Linked DNA regions of Homo sapiens. The protein of the gene in region 2 purifies or fractionates together with the protein of the main gene of each other region. This does not show direct contact. Each region holds a gene or a part of one and is shown on either strand. Other genes may lie near its edges. The genes, in order: METTL2B, ENTPD5, CA10 and RASAL2.

Region 1 (7,735 bases), on a different chromosome or scaffold from region 2:
TGTATTAAATTTAATAATTACAACACAAGTGTAAGCTATCATTCGAGACCAGCCTGGGCAACGTGGTGAAACTCTTCCTTTCACTTGAGCACACAGAGGACACTGTAGAGTATGAAGTGGCCTAATTGCAATATTGTGTCTTAGAGAACAAGGAGACCTGAGGAGAGGGAGAGAAATGGAATGGCAGGTTGGTGGGGCAGTCACAACACATGCATTTATTAAGTTGACCGTCTTACACAGATGTGATTTGTGGAACCCCAAACCAAGTACAACAGTAACGTCACACACTATAACATACATAATAGTAAAAAAGTCTGAAATATTCTGAGAATCACCAAAGCATGACACACAGACACTAAGTGAGCATATGGTGGTGGAGAAACGGCACTGGTAGGCTTGCTTGATGCAGGGTTGCCACAGACTTTCAATATATGAACAGATATGACATCTGTACAGTGTGATAAAGTGAACTGCAATAAAACAAGGTATGCTCGTTATCAGTAAATCTTTTACTTTTAGACCGTAAGAACACAGACCGTATAAGAACACAGCCAGAGACCTTGATTTTTAGGAGAACCTTTTCCCTTTAATCAGTGGAAATTACCAATAGGTAATTTCCCATCGTACTCACCTGGACCAGTTCTATAGCTGTGGAAGAAAAATCACAGCAATAAACAAAGAGTCCTGGGTCACTGAAATGGGCAGAAAAGACAAAACAATGAGACTACAAATCGAGCTATGTCTACTCTCATTCTTGTGTAGCACAGTTAAAATATCAAATGGGAAAAACTATCATTCATTCAAATAAACTGTATCTATTAGTCACAACATATTTCATTTTGGTTAAAATCCTTTTTGAATTATATCCTTTTGGAGGCTCTGTGGACATAGCTAATATGAAGTTTATAAAACAACCAGGGAGTTTCAAATCAATGTCTTCTCTTTTTCCACCTACAGAAATCCTACTTTTCCCTCAAATGAAGCCTTGCTTGATAGCACCACAAGAATTCTTTTTTCTTCGCTGAGCCACCTTGGCACTTTCTCCACACCAGGAACACATCTGTACCTGTCTGTTGGCCCCCACCACATAGTGAGTGAGTGCTTTCACAGCGGCGATTACATCTTTCGCTTATTAGTTCACCAAACACTACTGAGAGCCCACTATGCATTGTGTATTATCTTAGATGCTGAGGAGATAAAGATGAACACCACAAAATCCCTGTGCTTATTTTTCTTGGTATCCTCACTATCTAGCACAAGTCTCAGCACAAGGTAGCAACACAAAAAATGTTGATTTTAAAACCATCAAAATTGCTTCCAATTATGAAGCACATTATATATTTATTCTGAAGGCATCAAAATACAAAACAATTTGTAATGCCAGAATTCTTTTTGTTAGTACAGGTCTAAATAAAAATGGGAGAGGAGGAAGGCTGTATGCTTGCGTTTTAGAAACAACAGCCCAGAGCTCTTCTGCACTGTTGGGCTCATAATTTGAGTGAGACGCTGGGATTTTTGGGAGTATGCAATACCTCCAGCCTCTCAAAGGCATGGGCTCTGCTTCCTGCTGAACTGTTGACCTTTGGAGCAGACAACTTCTGGGAGGTATAATCAAGACTAAAAACCCGGGGAACTGCAGCATTTGCTATGGTAATCACTAGCTACCTGTGGCTACTTAAATTAAAAATTCAGTTTCTCAGTCCCATTAGATACGTTTCACACGTGGCTAGTGCCCACCATAAGGGAGAGTGAAGATGCAGAACATTTCCATCACTGCACAAAGTTCTATTCCACAGCACTGCTCCGAAAGCAGGGTCCATGCCTGTCCTGTTCTCGAATCAGCCAGGCAGCTGCATCTGCCGAGTACCCATTAAGGTCACGGGCTAAGTTCTATCAGACTCAGCTTCTGCTTTCTAAAAGACTCATTGCAGTCTTTGCCTCCTGGGTTCAAGTGATCCTCCTACCTCAGCCCCTCAAGTAGCTCGGATTACAGGTGCGCACCACCACACCCAGCTAATTTTTGTATTTTTAGTAGAGACGGGGTTTCACCATGTTGGCCAGGCTAGTCTCAAACTCCTGACCTCAGGTGATCCACCTGCCTCGGCCTCCCCAGGTGCTGGAATTTCAGGGGTGAGCCACCGCGCCTGGCAAGCGTTGTTTTCTTCTTCATGTTTTTCTTTTTTTTTTTGTGAGACACGAGGTCTTGGCTGTGTCACCCAGGCTGGAGTACAGTGGGACAATCTCAGCTCACTGCAGCCTCTGCCTCCCAGGTTGAAGTGATTCTCCCACCTCAGCCTCCTGAGTAGCTGGGACTACAGGTGCCCACCACCATGCCTTGTTAATTTTTGTATTTTTAGGAGAGACAGGGTTTCACCATGTTGACTAGGTTGGTCTTGAACTCCTGACCTTAAGTAATCTGCCCACCTTGGCTTCCCAAAGTGTTCAGATTACAGGCATGAGCCACTGTGCCTGGCCTCTTTGTGCTTTTCTTTTTTTTTTGAGACGGAGTTTTGCTTTTGTCACCCAGGCTGGAGTGCAATAGCGTGGTCTTGGCTCACTGCAACCTCCACTCCTGGGTCCAAGCCATTTTCCTGCCTTAGCTTCCTGAGTAGCTGGGATTACAGGCACCCACCACCACGCCTGGTTAATTTTTGTATTTTTAGTAAAGATGGGGTTTCGCCATGTTGGCCAGGCTGGGCTCGAACTCCTGACCTCAGGTGATCTACCCACCTTGGCCTCTCAAACTGCTGGGATTACAAGAGTGAGCCACCACGCCCGGCCTGTGCTTTTCTTTAAGTTTTCTACAGGTCATATAGTTGTCCCTTGGTATCCAGCTCAAGTCTCTTACACAATGGTGTCGGGTGTAGCATTTGCATACAACCCACACACATCCTCCTGCATACATTAAATCATCTATAACGCCTAATATAAATGCTATGTAAACAGTTATAGTTTTAAAAATTGTTGTTTTATTGATTTTTGAGACAGGGTCTTGCTCTGTCACCTGGAGTACAGTGGTGTGATCATGGCTCACTGCAGCCCCAACCAATCCTCTGGCCTCAGCCTCCAAAGTAGCTGAGACTACACGTGCATGCCAGCATGCTTGGCAATTTTTTTTTTTTTTTTTGAGACGGAGTCTCACTCTGTCGCCCAGGCTGGAGTGCAGTGGTGCGATCTCCGCTCACTGCAAGCTCCGCCTCCTGGGTTCATGCCATTCTCCTGCCTCAGCCTCCCGAGTAGCTGGGACTACAGGTGCCTGCCACCACGACTGGCTAATTTTTTTTTGTATTTTGAGTGGAGACGGGGTTTCACTGTGTTAGCCAGGATGGTCTCCATCTCCTGACCTTGTGATCTGCCCGTCTCGGCCTCCCAAAGTGCTGGGATTACAGGCGTGAGCCGCAGCACCAGGCGGCTAATTTTTTTGTAGAGACGGGGTCTCACTATGTTGTTCAGGCTCGTCTTGAACTCCTGGGCTCAGGTGATCCTATCTCCTTGGCCTTCCAAAGTGCTGGGATTATAGGCATGGGCCACTGCGCCTGGCCTATACTATTTATTTTCAATCCATGGTTGCTTGAATCCTCGGATGCAGAAAAGGTGAATATGAAGGGCTAAGAGTATTATTTTTAAAATCAGAGTCCTTAATTGGGCTCTGAGGATAGAACTGTATTTCAAAATAATTGATTTTCTCTATTTTACTTCATATACTTAAAATTAGCCCAAGATAAATCTATATAGAGATTTGTGCATTTGTAGAGTAGTGGTTGCTTAGGGCTAGAGATTGGGGGAAATTGGGAAATGGGGAGTGACTGCTAATGGGTATAGGGATTCTTTTTGGGGTGATGAAAATGTCCTGAAGTTGACTGCAGTGATGGCTGCACAACTCTGTGAATTAACTTAAAACCACTGTATTACAGCCGGGTGCGGTGGCTCACGCCTGTAATCCCAGCACTTTGGCAGGCCGAGGCAGGCAGATCACGAGGTCAGGAGTTCGAGACCAGCCTGGCCAACACAGTGAATCCTAAAAATACAAAAATTAGCTGGGTGTGGTGGCGGGCGCTTGTAATCCCAGCTACTCAGGAGGCTGAGGCAGGAGAATCGCTTGAAACTGGGAGGCAGAGGTTGCAGTGAGCCAAGATCGTGCCACTGCACTCCAGCCCGGGCGACAGGGCAAGATGCCACCTCAAAACCAAACCAAAACAAAACAAAAAACCAACCAAACAAAAAAACCACTGTATTACACACTTTATATCTCAATAAAGCTGTTATATATAAAAAGAAAACAAATGAAAAATACATTAGCCTGAGAAATGATCCTAAGGCTTTATCAGATACATTAAAAAAATATTAAGAACCCTGGCCTGGGCAACATGGCAAAACCCCATTTCTACAAAAAAGACAAAAATTAGCAGGGGTGGTGGCACACGCCTGTTGTCCCAGCTACTTGGGAGGCTGAGGTGGGAGGATCACCTGAACCCTGGAAGGTTGAAGCTACAGTGAGCTGTGATGGCACCACTGCATTCCAGCTTGGGTGACAGAAATCCTGTCTCAAAAAAAAAAAAAAAAAAAAAAAAAAAAGGATCTAGGCAATAGGGTAACTCAAGAAACATAAAAAGGCTGTAAAGACTGCAGAGTGGGCTGGGCATGGTGGCTCATGCCTGTAATCCCAGCACTTTGGGAGGCCGAGGTGGGTGGATCACCTGAGGTCAGGAGTTCGAGACCCGCCTGGCCAACATGGTGAAAGCTCATCTCTACTAAAAAGTACAGAAATTAGCCGGGTACAGTGGCACACACCTGTAATCCCAGCACTTTGGGAGGCTGAGGCGGGTGGATCACCTGAAGTCAGGAGTTCGAGACCAGCCTGACCAACATGGAGAAACCCCGTCTCTACTAAAAACATAAAATTAGCTGGGTATGGTGGCGCATGCCTGTAATCCCAGCTACTTGGGAGGCTGAGGCAGGAGAATCACTTGATCCCAGGAGGCAGAGGTTGCGGTGAGCCAAGATCGCACCACTGCACTCCAGCCTGGGCAACAAGAGCAAAACTCCGTCTCAATCAACCAATCAATCAATCAATAATACAAAAATTAGCTGGGCGTGGTGGTGGGCACCTGTAATCCCAACTACTCGGGAGGCTGAGGCAGGATAATTGCTTGAACCTGGGAGGCGGAGGTTGCGGCTAGCCGAGATCGAATCACTGCACTCCAGCCTGGGTGACAGAGTGAGACTGTCTCGAAAAAGACTGCAGAGTGAGGCAGCTGGACGATAACAACTAGGGAAGTTTTCTAGATGCTTCTGATCTGAATGTGAGGAAGGAAGGAAATAGAGTAGTAGAAACAAAGGACATTTTGGAAAGGTACGGAGTCAGGGGAAGACATGCAAGGTGTGACCAGTGCACTGAGGGATAAGAGGACATACTTTATAGGGCACACTCTTGTAGAGGACTTTGAAAACTATGCCCAACAATTTAAACCTGATTCACAGGCAGTAGAAAACATGCCAATTCTAAGCCAGTGAATTACATGAACAAGTGGGTTCTAGTAAGATACTGAACACAGCGATCTTATTTAAATGGCATAAAGAGGCTGTGGCAAAGATGCCATCTACATTCAGTTTTACATTCATTGATGATATTGATGATTAATGGCCATAACTTGAAGCTAAGTCAATCTCCCATTTGAGGTGGGTTCCTCAGACTGTAACTTCAAGAGTAGAACAATCTCTTTTCTTCAGTGTTAGTACTAGGACTTGCCATTTTCTTAGAAATTTCTGAGAACAAATTGTAGAAATATTTAAATGTATATTAGTAATGAGGCTAATGTTTTACTTAATCCTGTTAATGAATACTGTGGGCTAAATTGGCAAAGTATATATTATATGAAACCTTTGAGAAACAGTGGATTCCAGTAATGAATACAGAACTGGAATGTCATTTCCACAAGGGGTTTAAAAACAGCTATAGGGCCAGGAGCCATGGCTCACGCCTGTAATCCCAGCACTTTGGGAGGCTGAGGTGGGTGGATCACTTGAGGTCAGGAGTTCGAGACCAGCCTAGCCGACACGGCGAAACCCCATCTCTACTAAAAATACAAAAATTAGCTGGGCATTGTGGCGCATGCCTGTAATCCCGGGTATTTGGGAGGCTGAGGCAGGAGAATCGCTTGAACCCAGGAGGCAGAGGTTGCAGTGAGCCAAGATTACGCCACTGCACTCCAGCCTGGGCAACAGAGCAAGACTCCGTCTCAAACAAAACAAAACAGGTATGGTATAATAAATATATTTGGTGTTGGTCTTTGTGGTTCCAGGCACAGAGTTCCAAAAACCTTAAGAATTTCCTCAGCAGGCTGGGCGCGGCGGCTCACACATATAATCCCAGCACTTTGGGAGGCCGAGGCAGGTAGATCACCTGAGGTCAGGAGTCTGAGACCAGCCTGGCCAATGTGGTGAAACCCTGTCTCTACTAAAAATATAAAAATTAGTTGTGTGTGGTGGCATGCACCCTTAATCCCAGCTACTAGGGAGGCTGAGGCAGGTGAATCACTTGAACCCGGAAGGCGGAGGTTGCAATGAGTCGAGATTGTGCCACTGTACTCCAACCTGGGAGATGAAGCAAGACTCTGTATCTTTTGTTATTCATGATGAACTCCCTCAGGACCACACTGAATTTATGTTAATGAGATGACCTGGGGTGGGGCCAACACTAGTAAGGGCAAACTGATTGGAACTTTCAGCTTCACCCACCAATGTCCTGAATAGAAATGCAGATTATGTTGTATGAAAACTATTTTCTTCTTCTCCTTTTAAAATTAATTTTCCCATAAGTCTGTGTCCTAGCTGTATAAAAACTCTTGAGGCTGGGAACGGTGACTTATGCATGTAATTCCAGCACTTTGGGAGGCCGAGGCAAGAGGATCACTTGAGCCAGGAGTTTGAGACCAGTCTGGGAAACAAAGTGAGACCCTGTCTCTACAAAAAATAAACAAAAATTAGCTGGGTATGGTGGCATGTGTCTGTAGTCCCAGCTACTTGGGAGGCTGAGGTGAGACGATTGCTTGAGCCTAGGAGTTTGAGCCTGCAGTGTGCTATGGGCACACCACTGTGCTCTAGTCGGGATGACAGAACAAGAGCTTGTCTCAAAACTAAAAAAAAACCCTTGATGAGCTTCCAGGTTGGTGAACACATCCGTGTGCTAGGAGAACACTGCACTGAGCTCCTCAGGGTCAAAGCTCCTGAGCGTGAGATCCTCTGAACCCCACTCTAATTACTTCTTCAGCTGGCTGTTAATCTGTATCCTTCATAACAAACACATAAATGTAAGTAAAGTGTTTCCCTGAGTTCTGTGAGCCATTCTAGGAAATTATTGAACTGGAGACAGGGCTCCCCTGATTTACAGCCTGTAGGGCAGAAACACGGAGGGCCAGATTCACAACTGGCATCTGAAGTGGGGGGCAGTCTTCTGGGACCGAACCCTTAACTTGTGGGATCTGATACCAACTCCAAGTAGACAGTGTCAGAATTGAATTGTAGGACACCCAGCTGTTGTTGAATTGGTCAGTGTTGGCAAAAACCCTGCACATTTGGTGTCAGAAGCGTTCTGCTTAAGTACACAAAACCAGTGTGTTTTCATCAGAACAGGAGACATCTTCATGTATGATAGCTTTCTCAACTCTACCATGGGGGTAATGACAACTCAGCCACTGACTGTTCTTCAGAGATCATGAGAATGGAAAAGTTGAAC
Region 2 (7,735 bases):
CTTGTGGTTGAAGCTCTGCTCTGTTATACTCCATTTCAAATTAAAAAGTTTATTTTAAATGTGGTTGTAGATCCTTCGTCACCATTTCTCTAGGGAGGACTTAATCCGTACACTCCTTCCCGATGTCTTTGACCTCTAATTACTCCCCTCCGCCTTGTTTCCCACTTGCATAGTTTCTGTTTCTGAATTTCTGTTTCTTCTGAGGGAACATGCCGATTTGGTAATGATAAGCCTTGTAAACTTTTTTTTTTTTTTTTCTGAGAGAGAGTCTTCTGTCACCCAGGCTGGAGTGCAGTGGGGCATCTCGGCTCCCTGCAACCTCCACCTCCTTGGTTCAAGCGATTCTCCTGCCTCAGCCTCCCCAGTAAGTGGGACTACAGGTGCATGCCACCACACCCGGCTAATTTTTGTATTTTTGGTAGAGATGGAGTTTCACCATGCTGGCCAGGCTGGTCTCGAACTCCTGGCCTCAGGTGATCCACCTGCCTCGGCCTCCCAAAGTGTTGAGATTACAGGCGTGGGCCACCGCCCCGGCTGTAAACCTTTTTTTTGAGACAAGAGTTTTGCTCTTGTTGCCTAGGCTGGAGTGCAATGGCGCAATCTCGGCTCACCACAACCTCTGCCTCCCGGGTTCAAGCAATTCTCCTGCCTCAGCCTCCCCAGTAACAGACTATAGGTGCGTGCCACCATGCCAGGCTAATTTTTGTATTTTTGGTAGAGACAGAGTTTCACCATGCTAGCCAGGCTGGTCTTGAACTCCTGGCCTCAGGTGATCCACCCGCCTTGGTCTCCCAAAGTGTTGAGATTTACAGGCATGAGCCACCGCCCCCGGCTGTAAAATTTTTTTTTTTTTTTTTTGAGACAGAGTTTTGCTCTTGTTGCCCAGGCTGGAGTGCAATGGCACGATCTCGGCTCACCGCAACCTCCACCTCCCAGTTCAAGCGATTCTCCTGCCTCAGCCTCCCGAGTAGCTGGGATTACAGGCACACACCACCATCCCTGGCTAATTTTGTATTTTTAGTAGAGACAGGGTTTCTCCATGTTGGTCAGGCTGGCGTAAACCTTATTATACATACCATCTGCCAGCATGATCATGGCTTTTTCTTTTCTTTTTTTTTGAGATGGAGTTTCGCTCTTGTTTCCCAGGCTGGAGTGCAATAGCACGATCTCGGCCCACCGCAGCCTCCACCTCCCAGGTTCAAGCAATTCTCCTGCCTCAGCCTCCCGAGTAGCTGGGAATCCAGGCATGCGCCACCATGCCCGGCTACTTTTGTAATTTTAGTAGACACGGGGTTTCTCCATTTTGGTCAGGCTAGTCTCGAACTTCCAACCTCAGGTGATCCGCCCGCCTCGGCCTACCAAAGTACTGGGATTACAGGCGTGAGCCACCACGCCTGGCCGATCATAGCTTTTTCTGAGTGTATTTCTGGTATACTTTCACACTCCCGTGAGTCCATAGGCGGAATCGCCATATATTGAAGAGTTTATCTCTGATGTAAAATCTATAAAGTTACCATTAATTTTGTATGTGTAAGGTTCTGAAAAAGCACACTGTTGATAAGCTGCAGAAAAGAGAGTAGGGCATCTTCTGTCACAGGCTGTATATTTGGAATTTATTCTAGAAATTGGTAACTTTATAATATGAAAGTCAGTCCAAGACTCCTCATTTGAACATAGGCTTACAGATTAATGTATGAACATAAAAATTTGACTATAACAAGATTATTAATGTATGCGTAGTACCTTAGTTATAGTACTTTATAGTTTCTTTTATTGGTTTTTGGGTTTTTTGATGGTTTTTTTGAGATAGGGTCTTACTCTTAACCATGCTGGAGTACAGTGGCAGGATCATGGCTCATTACAGCTTCGACCTCCTGGACTTAAGTGATCCTCCCACCTCAGCCTCTGGCATAGCTGGGACTGTAGGCATGCACCACCATGCCTGGCTAATTTTGTATTTTTTGTAGAGACAGGGTTTTGCCATGTTGCCTAGGCTGGTCTTGAACTCCTGAGCTCAGGTGATCCTCCTGCCTTGGCCTCCCAAAGTGCTGGGATTACAGGCATGAGTCGCCACACTTGGCCTAGTTTATTTTATTGTATTATATATATTTTTTATTGACTAAGTTTGATTTTGTAGATAAAGCTGTTGTGACATGAATATGGCTCAGGGAAATGCCAAGATTTCATACTCTGGTAGAGGTGGATATAGAGTCTACATTCTTCTGAATCCCCTCATTTTCTACCAAAGAACTGGATGTTGTTACTGTCATCTGCTGGTGAGCAACAACTGATAGTACAGATAGTAGAGTAGGAAGTTGCTATTTAGTAGTTTATCTGGTAGCATTTCCTTCCACAGTTACTGGTAGGTGCCTTTACTATGAAGTTCCAGGAATTATTACTAAATAAATTTTCCTTGTTTCATTGTTTAGAACACTAATGCTTTTAAACTTGGAATAAGCCACTTCATGTTTTGTTGACTTGGTTTTGTAATTCTTTTTCTGTCCAGTTTTCCTTGTTCCTGGTCAACAAAGAAATGTGGAGTGTCTTGGCTGAATCCTCATACAGACAAGATCATTATGGTGCTGTTAGGTAGGACTTGTATCCAGATGTAAGGTAATATCTCCACTAGCTTAAATTTATAAATGTATTTCAAATGTTCCTGAATGGTGGTTTTCTTTTTTTCCTGAATTTAATTCTCTGTTTTTTGCCAAGTGATGTTAATTTTGTCCAACAAGCCATATATAAAATTTAGAACTATTATGTATCAAAATAGATAGAATTTCTGGCTGGTCATGGTGGTTCATGCCTGTAATCCTAACACTTTGGGAGGCCAAGGCAGACGGATTGCTTAAGCCCAGGAGTTCAAGACCAGTCTGGACAACATGGCAAAACCCTGTCTTTACAAAAAATACAAAAATTAGCTGGGTGTGGTGGCCATGTACCTGTAGTTCCAGCTACTCAGGAGGCTGAGTTCAGAGGATCACCTGAGCCCAGGGAGATCATGGCTGCAGTGAGCCGTGCCACTGTATTCCAGCCTGAGCAATGGTGTGACTGTTTCTCAAAAAAAAAAGGGGGGGCGGGGGGTGGGTAGTACTTCTGCTTTTTTCTTCTAGTAGGTCCAAAACTGGGTTTACTTTATAAATTCATCTATAACTTTATTCGGGTTTACCTTAGAGGCCATGTTTCCCTTCATAAATCATTCTTGAGATCACCTTATAGCAGATGGTACTTTATAGGTGGATCAGTCTAAGTGAACAACTTTAGATTTTGTTTCTACATAGCCTTTAGAATCCTGAATAAATATATTATTATCCAAACTGTTTCTTATGGGAGTTACTTTCTTTTTTTTTTTTTTTGAGAGGTAGTCTTGCTCTGTCGCCCAGGCTGGAGTGCAGTGGCACAATCTTGTCTCACTTCAACTCTGCCTCCCAGGTTCAAGCAATTCTCCTGCCTCAGCCTCCCGAGTAGCTGGGATTACAGATGCCTGCCACCATGCCCGGCTAATTTTTGTATTTTAGTAGAGACAGGGTTTCACCCCCATGTTGGCCAGGCCGGTCTTGAACTCCTCACTTCAAGTGATCTGCCTGCCTCGGCTTCCCAAAGTGCTGAGATTACAGGCTTGAGCCACCACACCTGGCCAGGAGTTACTTTCATCCTGCTTTTTTATTGCATGTGCTGCAAATATAGAATTCTACTAAATTGACATTTTCTCGTGATATTAAGACTAGTTCACATCTCTGCAGGGGCATTTTAAGAAATCCTGGCGGTCAAGGATTTAATCTTATCACTTTTAGATAAATTTTTAAAAATTTAAAACATTCAATGTTTTACTTATATACAAGATATGTTACCACAGATAATTATTTGTTTATTTATTTGTTAATGAATGACAGGGTCTCACTATGTCACCCAGGCTGGAGTGCAGTGGTGCAATCATGACTCACTGCAGCCTTAACCTTCTGGGGTCAAGCAATTCTCCCATGTCAGTCTCCTGAGTAGCTAGGAGCACAGGCTTGTGCCACCATGCCCAGCTAACTTTTTTTTGTGGGGGGGGGGAGTAAAGACTGGATCTCACTCTGTTGCTACTGGGCTCAAATGGTTCTCCTACCTCAGGCCCCCAAAGTGCTGGAATTATAGTTGTGAGCCACTATGCTTGGCCATATATTTTTGAAATGGGGTTTTGTTATGTTGTCCAGGCTGAACTTAAGCTCCTGAGCTCAAGAGATCCTCCTACTTCAGCTTCCCAAGTAGTTGGGACTACAGGCGTGCACCACTATGCCTACAAATAATCATTAACTACTGTTCCTTTATTTGCAAAATATCCCATTTTTATTAGTTGTCCATCCCAACAGAGCCACAGACTAAAAGTTCTCTAAGAAAACTTACCTGGACTGGGCACAGTGACTCACATCTATAATCCTAGCATTTTGGGAGGCCGAGGTAGGAGGATTGCTTGAGCCTAGGATTTTGAGACCGGCCTGGACAACATAACAAGACCCTGTCTCTATTTTTTAAAAAAAGCAATGAAAAATTACCTAAGTTTTAGGCCCACTTGTCTGCATTTTTATGTCATGGATCTGTCAAATGTTCATTCATTTAAGAAACATTTAATGAATACCAACTGTATAACAGCCTGTCTGATAACTTCATGGGTACAGTAAGGAACAAGAGAAGGCCCTTGCCCTCAAATTGTTTACAGTCAGATGTATAAAGCTCTGACCTGGATGTTGATCTCTGAGAATATACAACCTTATTGTCACCCATACACAAACACTTAACAGTAAACAGTACCAAGCAGGGATTGATAAAGGAGAGATGGTGTAGACCAGGGGTGTTCAATCTTTTGGCTTCCTTGGGCTACATTGGAAGAAGAAGAATTGTCTTGGGTCACACATAAAATATACTAACACTAATGATGGCTGATGAGCTTAAAAAAAAATCACAAAAAAAGATCTCATAATATTTTAAGAAAGTTTACAAATTTGTGTTGGGCTGCATTCAAAACCATCCTGGGCTACATGCGGCCCATGGGCTGTGGGTTTTGACTAAGCTTGGCCCAAACCCTAGGTGCTATAGAATTTGGAGGCATTTAAGACTGTCGTAGTCAGGGAAAGTTTATAGAAGGAGATGGACTGAAAGGAGAGGGAAGTTCCTCTGGGAAGTTAGAACAATGTGAGCACAATTCAGAGTATGCTTAAAATAGGGAGTAGTTTAACTCTAGCATTGGTTCCTAAAGTGTGGTCCACAGACCGGTAACATCAGCTTCACCTGGTAACTTATTAGAACTACAGTTTCACAGGCCCCACCTGAGACCTACTGATTCAGAAATACTGGCAATGAGGCCCAGCAGTCTATGCCCTCCAGGTGGTTCTGATGCGTGCTAAAGTTTCAGAACCACTAGACTAGAGCAGAGGGTTATTGTATGGAACAAGTAGGCAAAACACTCTAAAAAGGTAGGCTGGGAACTCATTGTGAATGACTTAGAATGTCAGACAGGGAGTTTGTCTTTTATCCTGCAGACTAGAGGCCCCAGCTTGTGACTTGAGGGCTGGACTTGGCTCATAGAATGTGTTTCGTTTGGCCTGAATGGTAGGTTTTTGGGGGTTTTTAAATGGAATTAGTTGTCATCATTTAAAAATCAGCAGATTTTACAAAGAAATCTGTGCTTTCAGCTTACCTTGAAAAATCAGAAGACCTGGCAGTATGGAGCCTACATTCCATTATGGTAGCAGTTGGTGGGAATAGCAAGAAGCTGCCCCTTTAGATGGGACACATGCTCTCCAGTTTACTGCAATCCCCACCGGTTCCTTTTGTCTTACACACACCTTTACTCATTTATATTTCCTGCCTGGTGCCTGTAGGTGTTTGAGTTTGTAACTTCTGTTGTGGACAGTGGGACATTAATGAAAATTTTGAGAAGCAGAGTGATGAGATTTATGTATTTGTTAATTTATTTAACAAACATTAATTAAACATATATGCCAGATTGTACTCTGTTAAGTAATCAGTGTTCAAAGATGAATGAGTCCCAGCTGGGACCGGTGGCTCATGCCTATAATCCCAGCACTTTAGGAGGCGAAGTCTGGTGGATCACTTGAGGTCAGGAGTTCAAGACCAGCCTGGCCAACATAATGAAACCCCCCCCTCTCTACTAAAAATAAAAAATTAGCCGGGGATGGTGGTGGGCACGTGTAATCCCAGCTACTTGGGAGGCTGAGGTGGGAGAATTGCTTGAACCCAGGAGGCGGAGGTTGCAGTGAGCCGAGATCATGCCATTGCACTCCAGCCTGGATGACAGAGTGAGACTCCATCTCAAAAAAATAAAAATAAATAAAATACATGTTTACTTTGGAGACCTTATAGTTAGAATTTATAACATGGGTTGCGTGAGTCAAATCCATAATTCAAATCCTGTCTTGAATGTGTAATCTTCAGATTTATGTTGCATAGGTAAGTTTAACTTTTTTGTTCCTGAGGGAATAGAAAATAATATATAAACTCAAATTCTTAAGTGATTCTTTCACCTCAGCCTCCCAAAGTGCTGGGAGTATAGGCATGAGCCACCAAGCCCCCATCTGCTTGGTCCCTTTTAACCACATACTCGTGCATGTAATAGTAAGTAGCCACTCATTGATCATACTGTGGAACATATGGCTGACATTTTAACAGCAAAAAAAGACCTCACATCTCGGCTCACTGCAACCTCGACTTCCCATATTCAAGCAATCCTCCTGTCTCAGCCTCCCAAGTAGCTGGGACTACAGGCACATGCCACCACACCTGGCTAATTTTTTTTATATTTTGTAGAGATGGAGTTTCGCCACATTGCCCAGGTTGGTCACAAACTCCTGAGCTCAAGCTGTCTGCCTGCCTTGACTTCCCAAAATGCTAGGATTATAGGCGTGAGTTGCTGCGCCCAGTCTGTGTACTTTACTTATGAATTAGCTCCTTGGTCATTGCCTTCTCCACCTTTACACACACATATACACCAGCTTCTAGAGGGAGTGTGACTTGCTTCTCTTGCTGTTGGTGACTTTTTAAATGAGCTGGATGTGTGGTAAAGTGGCTGAGGTTGTAGTTTGAGTGAGAAGAAAGTGTAGGGGAGCAGAAAGAGCTGAAGGGCATTAGACTACAACTCAGGAGATGAGCTTGGTGATCTGGGTTCCAAAGCCTGAAAAGATTAGAAATGAAAATGTGGAAGAGATAACTGAGTCAAAAGTAGGCATACTGACAGCAGAGAAAAAGAGGAAACTGTTCTTATAATTATTCATGTCCATCTTACACAGGTTGAAAAAGTGATATAATAAAGGAACCAAGGAGAAAATTCAGAAGGAAAGAAAAAATTGGTAAGTAACATATATAAGTAATACTTCACTTTTTCATAGGTCAGATTTCTGCAAATTCTGCTTTGTTGTTCCTAGCTGAGAGCTCACAGTAGATGGAAAAGGGTCCATAAGGCACTGAAAGAGCTGTCACAAAGTGCAGTACCCTTATTCTGTTGGAGAGGTCTTCATTTGCTTATGTTGACATGAAATTCTAATAATTATGGCTTCCTGATTTACATCCTACAACAGATTTAAAAAGAAAATTAGGAGGTAATGGTGGTTTATTGAAGGAGCTGGGCACATGACAGTACTGATCAGTGAAAATATATAGCATGATGTCAGAAAAAACTAGCTCAAAAAGGATAGCAATCTGGGACCATTTGGTGACAGAAGGGCAAACAGTCCTGTAG
Region 3 (7,735 bases), on a different chromosome or scaffold from region 2:
GACATTATTCTGTCTACCACATTTATCAACTCCAAATATATTTTCAAATGAAATGGAAAGAGAGGTTAGAACATACGTATTTTTCAGATTACCAAATTAATGCAAGTCTGTTTTAGCAAATCTAGAAACTTTAGAAAAGAAAAAATAAAACAGTATTATCCTTCATCCCAGTCTCTTTTTTAGATCCTACCTTCTATACTTAACATATGATAAGGATTTGTCGTGTCATCAACTACCTTTTATACTTAGATCCTACTTCTTATACTTAACATATGATCCTACCTTTTATACTTAATATATGATAATTATGTTTAGATCCTACCTTTTATACCTAACATATGACAGATCCTACTTTTTATACTTAACATATGATAAGCAATTGTCATGTCCTTAACTACTGAGGTGTCTATTTTATTAAATGAGTTAAAAGATGAGAAAAGATGACGGAACTGAGTTTTGGTTAAAATGATAGAATCGGCAAGTGGGTTTTAGTCTCAGTTTTAATATGTTTTTTCTCCTTTTAGATATTTTAGATCAGCAGATAGGTTTCTATGTGCCATATTTCCTTCCTGAAAGCTAAACTCACGACCTTTCAATACCCACCTATATCAAATCCTCAAAGCAAATATCTATATTCCAAAATAATTGATTGAAGTTATCCATATTTTACTCTGCGGTAACCTTCTCATCCTGTATTTCATTTTCAAATTACCAAGAATCTCACTTATGTGACTATACACTAAAATTAAAACACAAACACACTGCGTACACTCACTTTGGTCTGAGCAAAAAGACATGAAAGGTGAACATTTTTGTGAAATTTTACAAGTTCAATGGCTAACAAGGGTCTCAATCTTTAAAACAGTCAGTGAGGCTTAACTCAGTGTAAAACATCATTTATATCATAATCAAACTTCTTCATATATGGAAACTTTAAGCAACCTGAAACCACAAAGAATTATCTCCCCAACCTCCTCTTTTTGATTAAGTTAATTTAGTAGCTTTAACTAGAATGGATTAATTAGCTCCAAACAATGTAGCAATTGGATGTTAAATTTAACAGGGTCAAAGGGTGGAGATTGGTTCCAAGGTAGGAGTCTTATATCTACATACAACCCAGCCTTAAGGGCGTGCCATTTGTAAAAATACAATTACAGATTTAATATTCATTATGCAAAATGTTTGGGATCATAAGTGCTTCAAATTTTACTAATTTTGGATACTTGCATATATCTAATGAGATTTATTGGGGATGGGATCCAAGTCGAAACAAAAAATTCATGTATGTTTCATATACATTATGTCTTATGTAGATAGCCTGAAGGTAATTATATACAATATTTTAAATAACTTTTTGCATGAAACACAGTTTGAACTGCATTTTGACTGCAACCTGTCACATGAGGCTAAAAGGTGAAATAAATCTCATTTTTAAATAAAAATGAATATTTTCTATTACACTCAAGGCACAGTGCATAGGATGAGAAGGAATAACTATTATTCCTTGCTATTCTTGTACTGAGGTTGAATTTTAGCCTTAAACTATGGTAAGGAAAGCCCTTGTTCCTTCATTTGAGCCCAATGTCAGGTCAAATATGTTAAAATAAACATAGTAACGCAAGTCAGGGGCTTCCAGAGAGCTGCATCACAGTTTTGTGCATAAGATACACTTGAACACCAGAAAGAATAATGCTTGTGGATAAAAATGCGACACAAAACATGTAGTTACTAGGCTGCATTTCACGTACTGACACCCAGCTTGGCTCAGACTTCAAAATGTGACATCTTGCCCAAATTCAACAAAACTTCCCAGTCTTACAGGGTGATTTTCAAATCGATTAAGTTGGGTATTTCTTTAAGGGAAAACAAAAATCAGAGCAGTGATTTGAATTCTCACTTTCAAAACAAGTTTCCAACTCATTAAACATCACCTTCAAAATGTGATACAAACATGATTTACCTATTGCCTAGCAAATTAAGGCATTTCATTACCAATTAGTTTATCACGACCAACTATATTTTATTTTCTACCTTTCACAAATGCAAAAGGAACCATCAGACAGTTCTCAGCTCTTCAAACCACTGACAACAAAAATTGTGCCAGATATAAATATTTACATCATGAAAAGTAAATGTTGCCAAGATTCCAAACTCCAATGCATTTGAAAATTGGTTTGGATCAGGTATACTTTCCTGAATTGGAAAGATACAAAATCATCTGTTCAAAAAATATCTCTAAAACAAAAAAAAACCCAAGTCATAACATGTGAGTGATTTTTAACACTAGACTATCTCCCAATCTCTTCTTTCCCAATAAATTTTAGGGAGAAGCTGTGTTGACATTTTTTTCTTTCACATCAACATTTTTCCTTTAAGACATTCTGATGGAAAGTAAAAATTATATATCCATTGTTTGTGTTAGTTTGACACATTTTCCATCTCAATCCCAATCTGTACTTTATCTAAAACCCCTTCAAATGCTTGCCATAACTCGTAGGCGAAGGATTCAGCTCCCGAACACTGCCTCAGGACCTGCCCTCTGCTGTCCTCTCTAGCCTACCATCTTGCAAGCCTCTCTTCGCTCCCTGTGTTCAGCCTTGCTGGCTACCTTTCAGCTGCATTCTGGAACTCAGGCACCAAACCCCATTCTGTATCTTGGGCTTTTCCACCCCCTGCTTTTCCTTTTGCCTAGAATGCAATTATCCCCTACATCACCCTCTCCAAGAAAGAAAGAATGACTGAATATTTAATCATAACTACAACTTTTCCTTCTTAAATACTGACCAGCGAACTCACACGTGTTCACGACTTTAAATAAATAATTCACCTTTTTAAAGAGAAATGTACTTAGAAGCCATGACAAGCTCCTTGCAGAATTTATAAAAATAAAACTATAAATGGAACAATAATTAGGATAGCATCGTTTTATATGGAATCAGAGCAATAAACTAAATGACCTATATATGACCTTTCCACAAAAATGCTTCTCAAGTCATATTTAAAACAGTACACAAATACTGCATAACTAAATGGTGTCGACCACATGCAATGTCTTTTAAAACCTGCTTTGTGACCTGAGTCAAAGTCACTTACAGCTTTTTGATGAGTCATTAGGGGTGTGTGTATCTGTGACAGTTACATGGTACAAGAAAATATATTTCAATACATCAGAAGGGGAAAAAGTTAACTTACAAACTTCATGGTATTTATGGTGAACAGACTGCACAAAGGAAGAGAGAACAGAGCCCAATGACCCAAACCCTGAAGAATCAGCCGCTGGTATTATCAAAAGTTGTCAATAATTTTAACCTCAATTTTTTGCACACAAATTATTTTCCATTTCTCTTAACAATAGCTAAATTACCTTTGAACACAATTTTCTGCATGTGCATTTTTTTTTTACCTTTAACAACCTACTCAACAGTAAAAGATAGCCAAGTAGACATGAACCAGCAAGAGAAGTGCTAAGATTCCAGTGATGAGAAGACCCAATGGGCACTTGTGCCCTTCCACAAATTAAAGAGGAGCTCGTTATGGGGGGAGGAGAGTGAAGGAGGGATTTAGGTGTGAGAATCACAAAGCCCAGCTCAGCATTTCTGTGCAGGAGCTAGGATTCTTAGCAAGCAAGATGCCCCTAGGAAGATTAATTATTGATTTTCTTATAAATCATCTAAGGTGATTTTTGTCTGTTTTTTTCCTCCCAAGATGATGAACGTCTGATTTTATTTTTGTTAATTGGTTTTCTCACTTCACTGAGGTTAAAAGAAGGCCTAGTAAAGCAGTTTCTTAGAGGAAAGATTTTCCCAGCATGATAGGCAGGGGTGGCCACTATGCTTTCTGTCCTTTATGGGGGTACCAAGGTTGTCTGATAAGACTTCAGGCAACCTCCAGGAGGTACAGAGTAATCAGAAGCACAAAAGTTTGACTAGTTAGGGAGAAAAAGCACAATTTAGACATATTTCTATCTAATGGCGGCAGGTCTGAAGTCTGTGGTATTCCTAGGTGGGAGGACAAACTCATCACAGAGACTGAAGCCTTGAGGATTAGCTTTCAGAATCAAGATGGCCCCATCTTCAACTTTACCATGGAAGCAATATGGTGGCTTACCTTCCTGCCCCCCGTGTTGATGCGAAGAGGTGTCAGAAAGGGGTCGAAGATCATGTGACTGGTCTCTATGTTGACTGGCGACTGCCGTTTCCCCACAGAGCAAAGATTCCAAGCTGAGTTCACCAATCCCCAGAAAGAAGGAACTAGAAACAAAAAGAAATTATAGAATTAGGCTGAGTAGCAGGTTGGGGAAACAACATAAATAAACAGAGCTATGTACAAACGTGGTAAAATGGAAGAGAACCACCAAATGTTCCCACCCATGGAGATCCTTGGGGGTTGCTATGGTATTTTCCTGGTCTGAATCTTGGTCCACTTCTCTAAGTCTTACCTGCATGGTCTCTTGTCATCAGATTTTCTTGTTTGAGGCCCACTCATCCTGCAGTTTCTTTGTTGACTGCAGTCATCATTAACACTTTAATGCTAACATCATTGTTCAGGTCTCATCATCTTTGCAATATGCCTGGGGTAGCACAAATATTTAGCAATTCCCTGGAGTTGATGCTGTGCTTTTCCTATCTGGCAAGAACGATGTGAAAATCAACCTTATCCTATTTGGAAGTTTTTCAAGGAAAGTGTCATTCAGTGTACACAAAGTTTTTCTTTGGGTTGTCAAGACTAAACTGAGGGAGTGACTTATTTTATGAGCCCCCTAATCAATGCCAGACAAGAGCTTAGCAACTTGACTTCATCTTTGTTTAGTTCAACACTGTGTCATTAACCTAATGTACTTGTAGATAAAGAATTGGTGTTCATTTGATAGGCAGAAAAATGACATTAAGAGCTGAGCACAAATACCCAAAGGAAACCGTCCACTCATTTTCAGTGTCACATGAAAACTTCTATTAGAATGTATTTCTGTGGCAATTTCCAGTTCGATTTCTCTCTATTTAAGAAAGTTTTCAGGGCAAGGGTGGGGAGCCAACCTACTAATTTTATATCAGTGAAGATCAAAACTATACTTTCAGCCTTTCCCTGCCCCTTTCAGTACTTCCATCGAGTCTCTGGATCCATGTGTCCTTCAGATTCCCCTGAGATTATATGGCCATTCATTCATCCACCCATAGTACATGCAGTGAACTCCTATTTGGCATCACGCACTGGGTTAGGCTGAATCTCGAGGAAGGCAGGTAAGCACAAGAACAACTAACACACTGGGGAGGCTCACTAGTGTGAGGTCGAGTATGTTATGAGACTCCGGATGAGGGGAAGCCAATCCTGCCATGGTAGAGGGGAGGCAGGGAGTGACTCCTGGAGAAGATGAGCCTAACAATCACATTAGCCTTCTTAAATGGACCTGTCCTCTCAGAAACTCAAGTTTAATTAAACTTAAATTGAATAAAGGCTTTAACTTACAGTAGCCATCATTCTTGCCTATAGCATAGATGGAGAAAACTAAGGCAAAAGAGGAGTTTGGAGACACTTGCCAAAGATACTCAAATTCTTTGACTCTCTTATTTGTTATAGGCAACTGTAACAGACATGGGAGGAGAACTAAAAATAAGTTCCTTGGCCTAGACAAACACTTCAACATCAAAATAAGATGGGTCTCATTTTAAAATATGACAAATATCTAATTTGGTTTCATCCATGCCAATAAGCCTCTGGTAGACCATTTCCTTTAGTTTAAGGAGTTTGAATTGGCTTTTTAGTCATTAATGACTTTCAAAATGGTAGCAATGGCCTGAGTTACAGAGGGAGAAAGAGGAGGAGGAGGAAGAGGAGAAACATTGACACATGTGCATGGGCTTCCTCGGCCCTCTCATTTCTTATCATTTCTTAAAATATGTTATCACTACAAGTTACTCCACCTTTAGAAGGTACCACGTCCTAGCAAGACTACAATATTTAAGAAAGTTCTTGCATTATGAATGCACTTATATTATAAATATAAACTTGTCTTTTCTAAACTACTTTTTTTTAAAAAAAACACTGACTTGATCTTATATTTATTTATCCCTCAATCATCTCAAATTATGAAAATAAAGCCTTCATTAGGGCATCCTCCTAGCAGTCTTTGTCCGTAACGCACACACAAGTGGCAAATGTGAGCATGCCAGGGATATAGTCATGGCACCTCCACAAGTGAACTGAGTGGCCCTTGGTAAGTCATGTGTCCCTTGGACCTTCTTCATGGTTCCTGTGGTAGGCCGAATGGCTCTCCACCAATGATGTTTACTATCCTAATCCTCAGAACATGTGAATATGCTATCTTAGATGGTAAAGGGTATTTTGCAGATGTAATTAAGTTAATCGTTTTGGGATGGAGAGATTATCTAGGATTATCTGGGTGGGCCCAATGTAATCACAGAAGTCTTTATAAGAGAAATGTAGGAGGGTCAGAGATATAAAGATATACAGATGGAAACAGAGGTCAGCCAGGAGAGAAGATAATACTCTGCTGGCTTTGAAGATGGAGGAAGGGGACATGAACCAAGGAATGCAGGTGGCCTCTAGAAGCTGGAAGAGGCAAGACAATGGATTCTCCACCTAGAGCTTCCTGCTGTAAGGAATATAGGCCTGCTGATACCATGATGTTTAACCCCTTGAGAATATATTTGACCTCCAGAAACGTAGGATAATAAATTTCTGCTGTTTTAAGCCATGCAGTTGTGATCATTTGTTATGGCAGTAACGGAAAAGTAATACAGCACCCCTTTACCTTTAAAACTCTGTGAGACAATAACCTCTTTGACAATGAAGACATCTATGATGCTTGCAGGGCTCTCCCTAGAAGGCAGCTGCATGATTAAAGTAGTTACAGCTGGTGCACATTGCATTTCATCTACTCCCATGAAAAGCATTAACAAAAATAATTCCAAGCCCATAAATGGATTATAAGACTGCTATTATGTGGCAACATGGGTGGGCAGCTGCTGCTGTACTTCACTAATAAACGTCATGCCCAAAAAGTACCCCCGCAAAAACACAAACAGGAAAAACTTTATGCGAACATCTGCCTTCTCTTTTATTGGGCATGGAATTCTTTATGACGAACAGTTTCGGGGTTTTATATCCCCACTTCACGATCAAAGCCTGCGTCTCTGATGCTAATCACCTGCTCAGCCAATCGAGGAAGAAGTGAGAAACCTCTCTCCTGCTCAGCTGTGTCCCTCATTGGCTCCAGCCCTGAACTGCTATCTAAGTTTATTTACCCCTGGATGGCTGATTTTAAATCAGCTATGAATTAATAGCTTTTCAGAAATAGAAGCCACCTTAGAGATCGTCTGACTTAAATTCATTACATGGATTTAAGGCCATAGAGGCAGGGAGTAAAGTCCTCCACTCTAGGTCACACAGCCAGGTAGAGGCGAGGAAGGACAGAGTAAAGAACATTACTCAAGATTTCCAGTGCTACTGAGCCTCTGCTGCTCTAAACCCCTTCCTCTCCAGCAGGCTCTATACATGAGCAGATCATTTTAGGAAATTTCAGTTAATTGCTGCCAAGACCCCTGTAAGACTTTTGCTATCATTTCTCTTTTGGTAAATCAAGAATAACATTAGTGCCAATTTTCCAGTTAAAATAAATTTCAAGTGCAAAGGTTTGAATCAAACTGCTTTGAAAGTCAACTATTCTAAATAAACTTAGGATTTTAAAGGAGCCATACAACCATGGAGTAACATACAT
Region 4 (7,735 bases), on a different chromosome or scaffold from region 2:
AATAGTTATTGTGCTAGATTGAAAGGAAACAGAGGTGATTTTTGTTTCATGAATTTTTTTGTTGTAGTATGTTCTTCAAATGAAAAAACTATATACTATCTTTTATATATTCTTGGTCTTATAAGCGTTGCTCTTATTTTCCAATTAGTCAATCTAATGGGCATCATATCATACAGTTCTTTTAAATGATACTGACTAGTTAAATACACAACAGATGCTCAATAAAATATTATTCATTTATTATTCTGGATTATCTTTAGAATTCATTACTAAAATATAATTTATTACTTAGAGAATATTCTATGTTTTTCCCCTAATCCTTTGGAAGGGCACCAAAGGCTTCTTTTCAATGATTGTTCCATCTCCTTATAAGCTGGATAAATAGCAAAAAATATCTCTAGTTTATAGTCCAAAAAATTGAGGGAGGAGGTTAGTAAGTGGTTCAGATTCCATCTTGCTTAGGAATGGCCTTAGAAAGAGAATTTATATCCACTGACTTTCAACATGATCATCAAAGATAATGAAAAAGACAAAAAGAAAAAGGAGCAGGAATTCCCATTAGGAATATCTTCCCTTTGAGATAAAGCTGTATAGGGTTTCCCTGGAAAAACAGTAACGCTTTAGGGCAAAAGAGCCTGATGCAGCAGTTTCACTGATACTACAATTAATCATAGCCTGGCTATGCTGAGGCCAGTTCCTCGTTCCTTGCTAGTATTTACTAGACATAAACAAGACCAATTGGTTTCAGCTTCATAGTGTGAAATAGTCGGATTCCCATAAATGAATAACCCTTCTGCTATCAACACCAAAGAAAGGGCCGAATAAATTAATCCACAAACTTTGGGAGTTCTTGAAGAGGTTGGTTAAGAGACAGTTCAACAAATCTAAATGTGAAAACTGCAGCATCATATTAACAGGCTTGTCAATTATCTATTTTAAAAGGTCTCTTCAAATTCAAATTTCTAAGATTAGAGTACATGATAAATCTGAACAACTCATATATATAAAGTCTACTGTTTGTACGAAGTAGATGATACATGAAAAACAAAATAGAGAGGAAAATAAGAAAAAAGCAATACAAACAGAGGCTGAAATGGGTTAAAAAATTAAGAGAGTTTCTTGAAAAAAAATTTATCTGTGAATTTTTTCACCAGGATTTTATTTCCTTCCTACTCATTAGACGTAGAAGACTGAAGCCAGTTACTCTGCAGACAATGGCCACTACTTTGTGCTAAGATATAAATGGAATTTGCATGGGACAAAGCTACTGATAATTACAGCCGCCTACAGAACAATCCCCACAAAGAAATCCTCTAGTTTCTGGGAGAGAATTCCCCAACACAATTTGCAATTAAAATATGTAAAGGAATTTGCCTTAAAAATGTGCTGATTATATAGAACTTCAGAGGCTTCATGGGAGTGAGATGAACAAAGCAAGCAAGAAACAGATAAGAAATAAAAAACTAGGCCAGGCACGGTGGCTCACTCCTGTAATCAAAGCACTTTGGGAGGCCGAGGCAGGTGGATCACTTGAGGTCAGGAGTTCAAGACCAACCTGGCCAACATGATGAAACCCCACCTCTACTAAAAATACAAAAATTAGCCAGGCGTGGTGGTGGGCATCTGTAATCCCAGCTACTCAGGAGGCTGAGACAGGAGAACTGCTTGAACCTGGGAGGCGGAAGTTACAGTGAGCCGAGATCGTGCCACTGCACTCCAGCCTAGGCGACAGAGCAAGACTCTGTTTCAAAAAAATAAAAATAAAAATAAAAAACTAACAATGTAAGTTCAAAACAATGAACCAAAAGCCAGTGTAGGAAAAAAAAAAGAAACTTGAGCAATCAAAATACGGTGATTTATGCTTCAACTGATAGGACAGTGGCAGTACCAGCAAAAGTATAAACAAAGATTAATATTCAAAGCTGTACCTGGACATCTCACTGTGCCTGTACCCCACTTCATGCCAAAAAATATATTTGGTGACTCATTAATGGCTGTGACACAAAAACTAATTTTTATATTGGTTGTTTGGAGACTGTATGCATTTCCTACCTCCCATCCATCCAGGCAGCCCTCTAATCATAACCCACAGAAACATGTATTATGTGCTTATGCGATAGGTATTGTATTTTCCTAAAGAAAAAATGTTATAAATGACAACTGGTTCCAGATGAGCACAAAAAAGGCTATTTAATTTATAATATTAATAAACAACCAGCCTGAGTCATAGGCCCTCCATGATACAGAAGGAAAGGGTAAGCAAAAGAAAAAAAAAAGAATCTTTATTTTCCTTTTCTGTACAGGGCTGGGCCTAAGTACACTTTTGAAAAGCAGGTGGAGGACACTTTCCCTGTCCTGTCCCTCTCTGCCAGATCTCATGCTCTTCGCTAATCCTATTTTATCTTCAGTGCCCTTGTGCTGCCCTAAGTCCCTGAGTAGATATTTGCTTCTACACAGTATTCTGATTTCTAAAATTATGTATTTTTTCCTTTCTCCTCCCAATAAACATCTTAATTCTCTGAAAGTAGTTGATCGCAACTAGAATCTAGCACAAAAGTGATGTGAGGAAACTACTTCACAATAAGGTAGGAATGACTGATAGCCTTCTAACACATACATTTTATGCTTATATACACATACACATTTATATATAAAAAATACATATGATACATATAAAAGATATCTATTTTTCCTTTTCTTCAAATAAAAATGCTTACTAAATCAAATGATTTGGTAAAATTTTGGGAAATATAACAAAATAAAAATGAAAAATTTAAGACTGTAGAAAAACTTTATTACTCAGTAAAAAATGACCAACTAGGAGGTTTAGCCCAGGAAGTCTGCTTCCAGAAACAGCTTAAGTTAGTCATGCTTTTCATCCCTTCTTCTATTTCTGTATCCAAGGATTCTATAAATAATCCAATTAAAAAATCAAAGTAGGTGCAAGGGGCTCTGATCATAGCAGACTGGAGGCAGAGGCAGCCATATAGGTAAGTGCCTAAACTGTAAAAATGCAAATATATAACAGATACAAACTAGGATTTTATTGCAGTCTCCCTGCCCAGTTATTTTGCTGCATAAAAGGATTTGTCATAGAACTCTTTTAATCTCAAGTTTTTTAGTACTATCATTAGGTTTCAAAAAAAATTCAACTAATACAATGCTTTTTTAGGAGAAAAATCTTTTTAGATGAAAGATATATAAAGATATATATTATATACATGAAAAATTATATGAATGTGTATATTATATATTTAACAGTAGTTTGTTTCAAAGGGAAAAATATGTATTGATGCTTCAAAATGTAATATTTAAGGAAGAAATGATTAGTTTCTTGGCAAAGCTTTTTATTTGTCAATAAAAAAATTAGAAAAACTTATATTAAGATTGGATGTGATGTTAGCTGGGCTTGTCCATGTAAATAGAAATGTAAGGGATTTGCAGATGTTTAGAATACTTCCTTTTCCACCTGTGCTTCTATCTTTTTACTCTCTCCTTTACCTTGACTCTACAGGTGTTCAAGTGTTTATTTTTCTAGCTATTTCCAGGAAAAGCCACATGGGACTTTGTATTTCCAGAAGGAGTTGAGGGATGGAATGGAGAGCAGTCATATTAAACTCTTGGCTCGGAATGCAAACCTTTATTCTGGAAGCTTAAGAAAAAAAATTAAGAAGGATTAATTTTCAGATTTCCAAAATAATAGCTGGTTTTGCCTACAGATTTTAAGTATCTAATTATTCATTCAACATCATAGATTTGCTCTAAGTGCAAACTGAGGTAGCAGCTCTGCTGCTTGAAGAGAAGGAAGGGGGCCTCTGCGTGTTTGTTAGACTCTTAAGGGTAATGAGTCAAACTACATTCTGTAGTCACACCTGGGCAGAAGCCTCCCAAATTTTTCCTTTCCTCTTTCCATTTAAAGGTTGCTTTTAAGAGGAAATCTTGTTAACAATAGGATTTCCCAATGATTTATGTATAAAGAACCAAGGAAACAGATGGACCAAGTAGAAGCCAGGCCCCTTCAGCACTCACACCTACCTGCTGTGTCTGTTGTCTCTGGATTGCTCTAACTTTGGGAACAGGGCTCTCTCTGGAGGAAGAGGACTGCTGCCGGGACCGGCTCCCATTCTGCACAGGTTCGGCCACCAGGGCTGCGGACACCACTGACATGCTCCCGGTGCTACGTAAAGAAGCACTGTGTGGCAGGGATGGTGGGGCTTTGGCTCGGGCACCTAACCCACCCTGGTCCACTTTTCGGATCTGGGCCTGCCCAGTACTATTTTGTCGTGGCAAAGCAAGAGGTATGTGTCTATCTGGCACCGTGTGCCGCCTGGAGAAGTCCTCACTCTGAGTGCTACGTTTAGTGAAATCTTCCATGCTGCTATTGCTGGGTCCACTGAGCTTGAAGTCTTCACTGTTACTTTGGCTTCTGGAACTGGCAGTGCTTAGGTTCTCCAAACTGGAATCTATAGAGGCCTTTGGCATTGCTGGAATTGGGTTATTGAGGTGATAGACAGGGTTCTGGAACGACAAGGGCTGAAGGCCACCTGGCTGGTTCAAGGCTGGGTGCAGGGGCCTTCTCACTTGGGGTGCACTTTGGGGAGTGCTCTGGGTTTCCCGCAGCTGTTTGATGCTGGCCACCTGGGTTATGGAAAGCTGGCTTCCGGTCAAGCGTATAGGCACATCAAGCATGACAGATGCATGCTCCACTTGAGCAGCATGAGTGTCCTGGAGGTCCATGAGGGAGACGCTCCGACCATTAGGAAGGCTACTTTCCCTTTCATCCTTTTCAGAATAAGTCATGCTCTGAGAGGAGGCTTGCTGAACCAGCAATAATGTTTTCCCTCTGAAGTAGCTGTCTGTGTTGTCCTGGCTTGGAGATTTTAGTTTATGCAAATCACTGTGGAAAAGGAAAGGACACTTAATTTCTCTTGAGACAACTTCAACATGGCTAAGATGCCTCAATTCAGGCATATGAACTCCTCCGAAGGTTCTTATGTGGATACGTACATTTCTTTGGAAACTCAGATTTTATCTAATTAGGGAATTATTACAATGCTTAGAATAAAATCCAGCATTTTTACTTTTTCCCCAAAGGTACAGAATAACACTGTAGATACCAACCCATCACTGTCTTCAGTTTTAACCAGGATTCCAATAATTTCCTAGTTAGGTTTTAAACCTTCCCCAAATATTCCAATTCATACTTACTTGTCTAAACCTTCAAGAGAAGAAGTTCTAAGCACACAACTGAAAGGTCCCTGCAAAAGGCACAAGTCTTGCCAATCCCTAAAACAGTCTAAGCATCGACATTGTATCTACCTGTCCAGTTGACATAGCCAGCTATAAAATGGTTTTAACCGAGGTTCTCCAAGATTTTGAATGCTATAACGTACAGAAACATGAATTTCATAAAGCCTTTAGTCTTCCACTAAGCAAGACAGAAATTTTAAAAATATGCTTGTGGAATATATTGTAACTCTCTATACTACCATTCTAGAAAATAAGTCATCCCAGATCTTGTGCATTATTATGACAAATAATTGGACTGCTCTCAGGTCAGATGAGTCTTCAGTTGCTCATGATTTTAAACTTGTAAATTCAACAAATAGGTTGAATATACTTCTGCTAAATCTAAACATTATGTTTCTCCGAGATAGTGGTCAAATTCTCTCTTTCATACCTGTCAGTGGGGTCTTCAAATATTTTCTGCAGCCCAGAGGAGAGGCTTCCACTGACATTTGGACTGGAGTTATGTTCAGTGAAGCGTCTCAGTTGCTGTTGTATTGGCGTAGGATTAGTCAATGACTTGGTAATATCAGCAAGAACACGAGGGAGAGGCCCCAATTTTGCCACGGTCGCCTGTAGGAAGGAATTTTCACCCTAATTGGATAATAAGCATTGCGACATCCACCACAGATTGTTTTTGGCACAACGATGGCCATTGATGGAGGGGTGTAGGTTGGAGGGAAGGGTAAGTGTTTGCATATGGGAGTGGCAGGTTCATAATGCATTGTTATGGAGCAGCAGAACCATGGCGTCGAGATGAATGGAGGAGGCGAAACAAGGTGCGGCAGACATCGAGGAAAGAAAGGAAATCGAAATCAGGATTATGCAAGTAAAAATTAAAAGACATGCTCAAAACTACCAAACTAATGCCATTCCAACTAAAATAGGCATGCGAAGCAAACTAAATCTTTGGGAGGCTAGTAGATCAAGGTGGGGGAGGGTGGAGGCAGAACCAAATTCCTTCTAACCAAAAGAACTTCAAGATCAGAGGATCAACTAGTATGATAAACTTTCAAAGAAAAGGGATCATGTGAGAAAAGAAATGCATGCCAACATATAAGAAGGTGCTCATTCAGGAATCCAGAGTACTGCAGGGCACACAGATGATACTGCCATCCACTATCCCAGTCAATCTTGGGAACCCTGACCCACTGCCAACTGAGTTTCCATCAGTAAGACAATTTTTATTGTTAATTTAACAGCAAAATCAGGTAAACTTCCTCTATGAGATATGTCTAGATGTATTCCTGGTTCCCAGGACCAAACACAGATTAAAAAGGAGAAAGTGTGTTTACATAGCAAAGCCCGTTAAAAAGACTTTGATCCTGAATAAACCAGGCCCATTTCACAGGAAAACTGAATCTGCATTCCACTGAGATGCAGTTATTCAACAAAGACGAACTCTTTAATACTTGCTTTATCCATTTCAATCATTTTTTTATTTAGGGAATTCTTATTCTCATGGGGTCTTAGGGGTCCCCTTCAACTGTCAGTCAGTTTGGCATAGCTGCCTTTGGGTCTTTGCCTTCTCAACAATCAACAGACTCTTCTACCCTACTCAAACAGGGATAGATGCCACCAAGGCCTTTACTTGCTCAATAATGTTGGGCTACGATTCACATGAAAAGGGTTTATCTTTGGCATAGCTGCAACTTAAAAATCTAGCTAGCATTTCTAAAAGTGAAGAAAAGGTCCTCGAGAATAAGGAACAGTTTATTGTTTTACAAATATTTTAAGCACTGGAGGACACATTACCACATATGTTTCCTCAGCAAAGTGGTCTTTGTTAATAGGTTTTATTCCCCTTCAAATTTTACTGATATAGCATTTTTATTGATAGGAAAATAGAGGAAAATAAGTAGATCATTATCATAGAAAAATGACTGTCTTTTGAAGTTATTCTAACATACCACCACACATATTTATAAAGTGCCTGTAGCAAACAAAAACATCAATAAATAATTATTGTAATAAGCCTAGCCAACGTCTTTTAGACTATTTTTTACTACCAAATCTATTCCTTTTTGTTAAATTCCAGAAGGAAGAAAATGATTGGCATGGTGTATATTTACTTATTAATACGGTATATAATAAAATTCTTAGCAAACGATTAAAAATAATTGCTTTCTGTATTCTTAATTCACATCTGTAAAGAAAGAAAACAATGACTGTTAGCACTAATAATTATATGAAACTCTATGACTTGTATAGTAAAAAAATTTGTTTCATGGGTAGTTACTTAAAACATGATAAACCTAGTATTTTCTTAGCTAAATCTATACTTTTATTAGAAATTACTATATGAGGTTTCATCTTATCCTATTAGACATGCATAAGGCTGTATATACCAATATATTAGTTTCTAGTCAAGTTTTCAGATATGCACTCTGTATATATAAATTTAGAGAAATATACTCCATTAATTCAGATAATTATTAAAAACATATAT

Evidence for each region.
Region 1: the proteins of ENTPD5 (region 2) and METTL2B fractionate together in Homo sapiens (co-fractionation; one large-scale study listed by BioGRID). This does not show direct contact.
Region 3: the proteins of ENTPD5 (region 2) and CA10 purify together in Homo sapiens (co-immunoprecipitation; one large-scale study listed by IntAct). This does not show direct contact.
Region 4: the proteins of ENTPD5 (region 2) and RASAL2 fractionate together in Homo sapiens (co-fractionation; one large-scale study listed by BioGRID). This does not show direct contact.

The regions. Positions count from the first base shown.
Region 1 is NC_000007.14:128,481,058-128,488,792, reverse strand, and holds part of METTL2B (tRNA N(3)-cytidine methyltransferase METTL2B), read right to left. Parts: intron 693-7,735; coding exon 632-692; intron 1-631. UniProt on the Homo sapiens protein: S-adenosyl-L-methionine-dependent methyltransferase that mediates N(3)-methylcytidine modification of residue 32 of the tRNA anticodon loop of tRNA(Thr)(UGU) and tRNA(Arg)(CCU).
Region 2 is NC_000014.9:74,010,702-74,018,436, reverse strand, and holds part of ENTPD5 (nucleoside diphosphate phosphatase ENTPD5 isoform 1 precursor), read left to right. Parts: intron 1-2,506; 5' UTR 2,507-2,613; intron 2,614-7,286; 5' UTR 7,287-7,346; intron 7,347-7,735. UniProt on the Homo sapiens protein: Hydrolyzes nucleoside diphosphates with a preference for GDP, IDP and UDP compared to ADP and CDP. In the lumen of the endoplasmic reticulum, hydrolyzes UDP that acts as an end-product feedback inhibitor of the UDP-Glc:glycoprotein glucosyltransferases.
Region 3 is NC_000017.11:51,926,883-51,934,617, forward strand, and holds part of CA10 (carbonic anhydrase-related protein 10 precursor), read right to left. Parts: intron 4,251-7,735; coding exon 4,108-4,250; intron 1-4,107. UniProt on the Homo sapiens protein: Does not have a catalytic activity.
Region 4 is NC_000001.11:178,454,845-178,462,579, reverse strand, and holds part of RASAL2 (ras GTPase-activating protein nGAP), read right to left. Parts: intron 5,881-7,735; coding exon of another isoform or gene 5,860-5,880; coding exon 5,681-5,859; intron 4,898-5,680; coding exon 4,036-4,897; intron 1-4,035. UniProt on the Homo sapiens protein: Inhibitory regulator of the Ras-cyclic AMP pathway.